Homo sapiens: one gene and its partner. The protein of the gene in region 2 purifies or fractionates together with the protein of the main gene of each other region. This does not show direct contact. Each region holds a gene or a part of one and is shown on either strand. Other genes may lie near its edges.

The links. The genes of interacting proteins can lie anywhere in the genome.
Region 1: the proteins of TIGAR (region 2) and TMEM231 purify together in Homo sapiens (co-immunoprecipitation; one large-scale study listed by IntAct). This does not show direct contact.

What each region holds. Positions count from the first base shown.
Region 1 is NC_000016.10:75,542,699-75,546,353, reverse strand, and holds part of TMEM231 (transmembrane protein 231), read left to right. Parts: intron 1-276; exon of another isoform or gene 277-399; coding exon 400-528; intron 529-858; coding exon 859-1,002; intron 1,003-3,655. UniProt on the Homo sapiens protein: Transmembrane component of the tectonic-like complex, a complex localized at the transition zone of primary cilia and acting as a barrier that prevents diffusion of transmembrane proteins between the cilia and plasma membranes.
Region 2 is NC_000012.12:4,355,682-4,359,336, reverse strand, and holds part of TIGAR (fructose-2,6-bisphosphatase TIGAR), read right to left. Parts: 3' UTR 1-3,655.

The DNA of each region.
Region 1 (3,655 bases), on a different chromosome or scaffold from region 2:
ACTTCTAGAGACATAGAAGACTATTCTGACATGCTACTTAAAATTTCCATACAAATTCAGGCATATTTGTAAAAAAGAAAAAAATATCAGTGCAAAATAAGCAAGATCACATGAGACAACTGAAAGGCACAAATACTATCCAGATGTTTTTTGTTATTGCCCATTTATTTTGGCCAGTGAACATTTGAAAGGCCCAGATATGAAGTTCAGGGACCATGCACTTTGTGTCTCTCCCCAGTATTAATGCACTTACATCTATCTGCTTTTCTCTTTTAGTGGAGGAGATAATGCCTGTTGTGTACAGCAAGACAGTGGGTCATTGTGTATTTACAGAAGTGATGTGGATTCCTCCCAGACTCATTAGTGACCAGGGCTGCTGGGCCTGTTTGGGTTTCCTAGACTAGAGAAGAAGACAGGAACCAGGATGGGAAGACGGACATGTTACATTTTAAGCTGGAGCTTCCCCTGCAGTCCACGGAGCACGTTCTCGGTGTGCAGCTCATCCTGACTTTCTCCTATCGATTACACGTGAGTCAGTCCGCTGGGAGGCTGTCCTCTCCCTTGTGTCTTTTTAGTAGACCAGAGTCCTTCTTCTGATTTCTAGAAGACCCGCACTCTAGCGGGCCCTCTTCCCCATGTAGTTTGGGATTTAACTTAGGCCAATGGAATGGTTTTCACTAGTCATATTAACTGACATGGGCTATTAATAGCTCAGAAGGTTCTAGGCAGTGTTTCCTGCATGGCTACGCTAGGTATGTGAGGGCCTCTTAGGTTTCAGCCAAGACAGGTGACTCTTAGCACCCAGAGCCCTTCAGATCTGATGGCGGTTGGTATTGTTGGTCCTTCTAATGATTTCAGAGGATGGCGACCCTCGTGATGCAGAGCATGGCGTTTCTCCAGTCCTCCTTTCCTGTCCCGGGATCCCAGTTATACGTGAACGGAGACCTGAGGCTGCAGCAGAAGCAGCCGCTGAGCTGTGGTGGCCTAGATGCCCGATACAACGTAAGAGCGCTTCTCATTGTCCAGCTCCTTTGTTTCTCTGTGTTACTGTTCATTAAGTTCTTTAAAGAGGGGAATGAAAAGTAGAAATGTCAGGCCAGGCGCAGTGGCTCATACCTGTAATCCCAGCACTTTGGGAGGCGGAGATGTGCGGATGGATCACTTGAGGTCCGGAGTTTGAAACCAGTCTGGCCAACCTGGTGAAACCCTGTCTCTACTAAAAATACAAAAAATTAGCCAGGCGTGTGGTGCGTGCCTGTAATCCTAGCTACTTGGGAGACTGAGGCAGGAGAATTGCTTGAACCCAGGAGGTGGAGGTTACAGTGAGCTGAGATCTCGCCACTGCACTCCAGCCTGGGCAACAGAGCAAGACTCTGTCTCAAAAAAAAAAAAAAAAAAAAAAAAGAAAAAGAAAAGAAAAGTAGAAATATCATTTCTTTGTGGGTGGCACCAAAGAGGGTCTCTGTAGAATTCTTGCCATGAATTTTTTCAAACTACAGAGAAGGTACACGCATAGTTACACCTAGAAGGGAAGAGAAACAAAATCTGTGTTTGTCGAAGAACTAAATTGCTTATTGCTTTTAGGTCCACGTGGGTGCACACACACACATTGTGTCTTCCATACACACGCTTGGTCACACGCAGGATGTACTCCGAAGGACACTGTAAAATGATGATGTAAAATGTTCATGTAAAGTATTTCAGAAATATTACTAGCCATAGTTTACTGAACTCATAACATATGCCACCCCTGAGTGCAGGCGTTTACCTATATCATCTCCTTTAATCATCATGGCAACCTCTGAGCTGCCTGCATTGTCCTTTCCCCGCACTCCAGCCACTTGTCCCATCACTGCCCCCGCTTGCTCCCTTCCAGCCCCCCTGGCCTTTTTGCTGTTCCTCAAACCCAAGAAGCAGCTGCCACCTCAGGGCTTTTGCTTTTGCCATTTCCTCTGCCAGGCATCCATGTGGCTTATCGGACCATGCCATTCAGGTCCCTGTTCAGATATCCCCAAGCCCAGTCCTTCTCTGACCTGCTTCTACAGTAGCAGCCCCTCCTTCCACCATTCCTCAGCCAGACTCTCCCTCCTGCCGCCTGGCCTACTCAGGATATGTGTTTGTGTGTTTATTTGCTGTCTCCCTCAGCCTTGACAGCAGTGGCATCTCAAATACTATCACATCCGTGCCTAGCACACTGCCTGGCAGATGGTAAGCTCACAGAGATACTTGTTTAAATAATGAACTCATTTTGCAGAAGACGTAACTGGGGCTTAAAGTGATTAATTTTCCCAAAGGCTCAAATCTTGAAAGATAACAGAGCCTGTCTGTGTGCAGAACTCATGCATCTAATCACTCATTCCTCACTTTTATTTTATCACAATGGGGACCATAGAAGTTGAGCTGAGGTACTTCTGAAAATGAAAAAGGGATGTTATCGGTTATTACAGCCATAAACCCAGACTTGTAGATATATAGTGGGTTTTACTGTTGCTCTGACTATAATCAATATAAGTTGTAAAGAATAGGAAGCTGCAACATATGAAATGAATATGGCACTTTTTGTTTGAATGTCTATATATCAGATTACATTAACAGCAAGCAATTATTTCCTCCTTTAAGGGATTATATGCTTATGGTTTGCATTTTATCTATATCTCTATATTTAAAAGTGATAAAGAACTTAGCACCCAGAAAAGACCAAGAAAATGACAAAGGAGTTGGAAGTATGGTTTCTTTTTTTTGTCTTTGTGTAGGGGTTTTTATTTGTATTTTATTTTTATTTTTGAGACAGAGTCTTGCTCTGTCACCCAGGCTACAGTGGAGTGGCATGATCTCGGCTCACTGCAACCTCTGTCTCCCAGGCTTAAGAGATCCTCTGATTTCAGCCTCCTGAATAGCTGGGATTACAGCCATATGCCACCACGCCTGGCTAATTTTTGTTTTCTTTGTAGTAGAGATGGGGTTTCACCATGTTGGCCAGACTGGTCTCGAACTCCTGGTCTCAAGTGATCCATCTGCCTGGGCTTCCCAAAGTGTTGGGATTAGAGGCGTGAGCTTCCATGCCTGGCTTTTTATTTTTTTTTATTTTTATTTTTTTTTGAGAGATGAAGTCTTTCTCTGTTTCCTAAACTGGAGTGTAGTGAGTGGCATGATCATCATTGACTACGGCCTTGAACTCATGGCCTCAAGTGGTCCTCCTGCCTCAGCCTCCCAAGTCACTGGGATTGTAGGCATGAGCCACCACACCTGGCGAAAATACGGTCTGTTAAAATAATTTAAGGAATTCTTTCTCCCGCTGAGATAAAGAGGGGTATTTTAAAAATAGCTTTAAAACCTGTAAAACATGGACACTGACCCCTTATTTCCATCCACAGAAAGAAAGACTGAGAGTAAATGGGCTTAAATTGTTGCAAGAGAGTTTATTCATCTTTGAAGAGAAGATTATTGATACTGCAGTAGGCCACCAAGAACAAGAGGGTGCTCTGTGGGACCAGCCTGGGTGGGCAGCAGCCTGTTTTATTCATCTTTGAAGAAAAGATTATTGATACTGCAGTAGGCCACCAAGAACAAGAGGGTGCTCTGTGGGACCAGCCTGGGTGGGCAGAAGGGTAGAAGGAAAAGGGGAGGAGTCTCCCAGGTGCTCACACCACATCCT
Region 2 (3,655 bases):
CAGAACATAAGAGCCAGCCTGAAAGGGTTCCCACAGGACAAAGTTGGGACTGTGTAACCATAAAATAATAAGAGTACTGTATTATAAGCCCCTGAATAAGAACTTCTGAGCTCATACTGACATAAATAAGTAGGCAAGAAGGGTAAAGCTGTCTTAGTACAGAATGCCAACTAATAAACATAGAAGCAAAAGTAGAGTCATGGCGTGAGTTGGCTAAAGAAAAAAAAAACAGAGTCAGAAAATAAACAATAAAGGCTAAAAGAGTAGTTGCAAATTTAATGAGGAACCAGACATATTGATACAACGTCCTGTCCCTCCTGACATGACCAAGGACACATCCTTTCTGGGCTGCTTCTGACAAAAGTATACAATCCAAATCTAATAATGAGGATATGTCAGGAAAAAAAACCACAAGAACTCACCTATTTTTTAAAAAGTAACAAGATCAAGAAAGACAAAGTTCATCTGGTTAGATAGATGGTGGGAGAAAAAAAGAAGGGCAAAGGAAGGCAAAGGAGTAGACGGAAGGACATGAAGAAACATGACAACTAAATGCAACACAACACACAGTCCTGGATTGATTGGATTCTTGATTCAGAAAAAAAAAAAAAGCCACAGGTACATCAACAAAATAATTGACAGAATTTAAATTTGGTCTAAGGATTAGCTAATAGGCAATATCAATGTCAAATTTCCTGACTCAGATATTTATTCTGGGTTATATATAAGAACATTGTTGATCTCAGGAAACACACATTGAAATTTTATAGGGGAAGAGTATGAGGACTCAAAGTTACTCTCCAATGTTTCAGGGGAAAACAGAGGGAGAGAGAAAAAATGGCAAAGCAAGTGGGACAACAGGTAAGCAAGTGGTGAATAAGTGTGAAGAGTATACAGCCATTCCTTCTACTGTTCTTGCAACTTTTCTGTAGGTTTGATAAATCCAAGATAAAAGATTACCAAAACACACGCACATACACATTACTGTAATTATTCTCTATGAGGATACAGTAGCTCAGTGATTTTTCTTTTTCTTTTTTTTTTTTTTTGGAGACGCCCAGCTAATTTTTGTATTTTTAGTAAAGACAGGGTTTCACCATGTTGGCCAGGCTGGTCTTGAACTCCTGACCTCAGGTAATCCACCCACCTTGGCCTCCCAAAGTGCTGGGATTACAGGCCTGAGTCACCATGCACAGCCCATTATTTATCAAATGATTTTTTTTTTTTTTTTTTGAGACCCAGTCTTGCTCTGTCACCCAGGCTGCAGTGCAGTGGCGCGACCTTGGCTCACTGCAAGCTCCACCTCCCGGGTTCACGCCATTCTACTGCCTCAGCCTCCCAAGTAGCTGGGACTACAGGCGCCGGCCACCAGGCCTGGCTAATTTTTTCTATTTTTCAGTGGAGACGAGGTTTCACTGTGTTAGCCAGGATGGTCTCTATCTCCTGACCTCGTGATCTGCCCGCCTTGGCCTCCCAAAGTGCTGGGATTACAGGTGCGAGCCACCACGCCCAGCCACCTCAGCGATTGCTTGGTCACAAAATTACTAAGAACCAGGCCTTGAACCTGAATCCAGGCCTTCTGACAATAGATCTTTCCAGTGTCCCTGCCCTGTCACTTATCAATGAAGAAATCACCCCCTTAGGCCATATTGCTGAACAATGAACCAAGTGATTGAGAACTGTGGGGGGAAATCCTAAAGTTTTTAAAGCACTGGTAGTTACCTGTCATGACGACCTACTTAGCCATCTTGTTTGGACACAAAGGAACTGACACATACTTCAATCTGAAAGCTGTACTTCCAAATTGATGGGGCCCAAAGAAAGAGGGGTAAAAAGCAACATTTACATGAAACAAGGATGTTTTCTAGGAGCCCCATTCAATTTCCAAACTGGTAAGTGCTGCGTCTGATAGCAGGTACTCAGCCCAGCACCACCGCTCTACTGAATACTTCTTTCCTTTGCATCTCCTGTGTCTGTGCTTAACAGGGCTGATAATTATGCCAGGTGGATTCACCTAGGATGATCTATTTCAATTAAATTGTGACTGACCTTAATATAGTGAAGACATATAATAGAACCATTTAACTTACACGAATTCATCTACTTGTAAATGTAATATGCATGCAAGTATACATAATATAAGCATATGTACTTAAGTGATATGGCCAAATATTGCACTTCCTGCATAAGCCTAAGCCATGGAATGGGTGTGAGATGCACTGTTCTCTCAGGGATATCTTACTTTATGTGCTTCCCCTAATATGAGCATGTCCTTGCTGAGTATGACATAGCATTTAAAGAAATTAGAATAAAGATGCTAACTAAAACAGGTTTTTAGTTAAAAAGCAATAAAGGAGAATCCTCATCCAAAAATGGAAATGAATAGTAGGTGAGTGAGGAGTGGGAAGGACAGGAAAATAAGAGACAGGTGAATGGGAGCCATGGTTTCGACTCCAGGTGCAAGGGAGCCTAAGCGACAGGCTCTGCTTGAAGCTGCGAGCCTGGGGTGAAGCCTGGAACTGGAAACTTCTGCCCATTCCCTCTGCTAGGCCTCGGACTAAACCTAACAGAAACAGGCAAGACAAGGTGGGAAAGATGAGTACAGGGAACACAGAGGACTTTTAGGGCAGTGAAAATACTCTGCATGATACTATAATGGTGGAATACATGTCTTCATACGTTTGTCCAAACCCACAGATCATGCAACACCAAGAATGAACCCTAATGTAAACTATGGGTTTCAGGTGATGTGGATATGTCAGTGTAATGTGGGCTCACCGATGGTAACAGATGCACTGGTCTGGTGGGGGATGTTGATAGTAGGAGAAGCAATGCGTGTGTAGGGGCAGGGGATAGATGGGAAATCTCTCTACCTTCCTCTCACTTTTGCTGGGAAATTAAAGTTTCTCTTAAAAAATTAAGTCTCTTAAAAAATTCATTTGTTAAAAAACAATCAAAAACCGGGAAAATATTACAAATAAAATATCATTGCATAAAAGACTCAGGCAAAATGAGAGATCTATGACATTCACAGATGGGAGGATGAGAAATCCTAAGCTAACCTAGAAATTCAATGTCCAGGCTCCTTAGTTAGCCATTGGAGGCACTCTGGCCTGGTCCCTGCCAACATCCCTGGCCTTGCTTCTTCAAATGGCCCAACAGCCAGTGCTGCCATCTTCCCTGCCTCCAACCTTGTGCTCCTATAGCACCCCCTACAGCCTGCTCTCCACATTGCAAGCAGGATGGTCCTGCTGAAACAAGTCTGATCACATCACTGCCCAAACTGGCCAATGGCATCTCATCTCACTTGAGTAAAAGCCCAAGGCCTCAGCACAGGCCACCAGGCCATGTGGCCTGTCCTCTTCTCCCGTCACTCTCCCATCCCCCTTGCTCAAAGGAGTCAAGCCTGATCCTTCCTCATGGCCTCTGCACTCTACTCCTTCCATGCTGCTCCTCTCCCCAGAGCAGCAGATCTTACATCCTTCAGTGCTGACACCATCGAGTCCTCCCTGCCCATCCTGGATAAAGCAGCATTCCTCCCACCAGTCTCCATCCCCCTTACTCTGACCTATTTTGCTCAACAGCACTGACCACAATGTGAGCCAACACACTGTCTTCTCTGACAGAACAAATGTTCCACAAGGACAGAGACTTT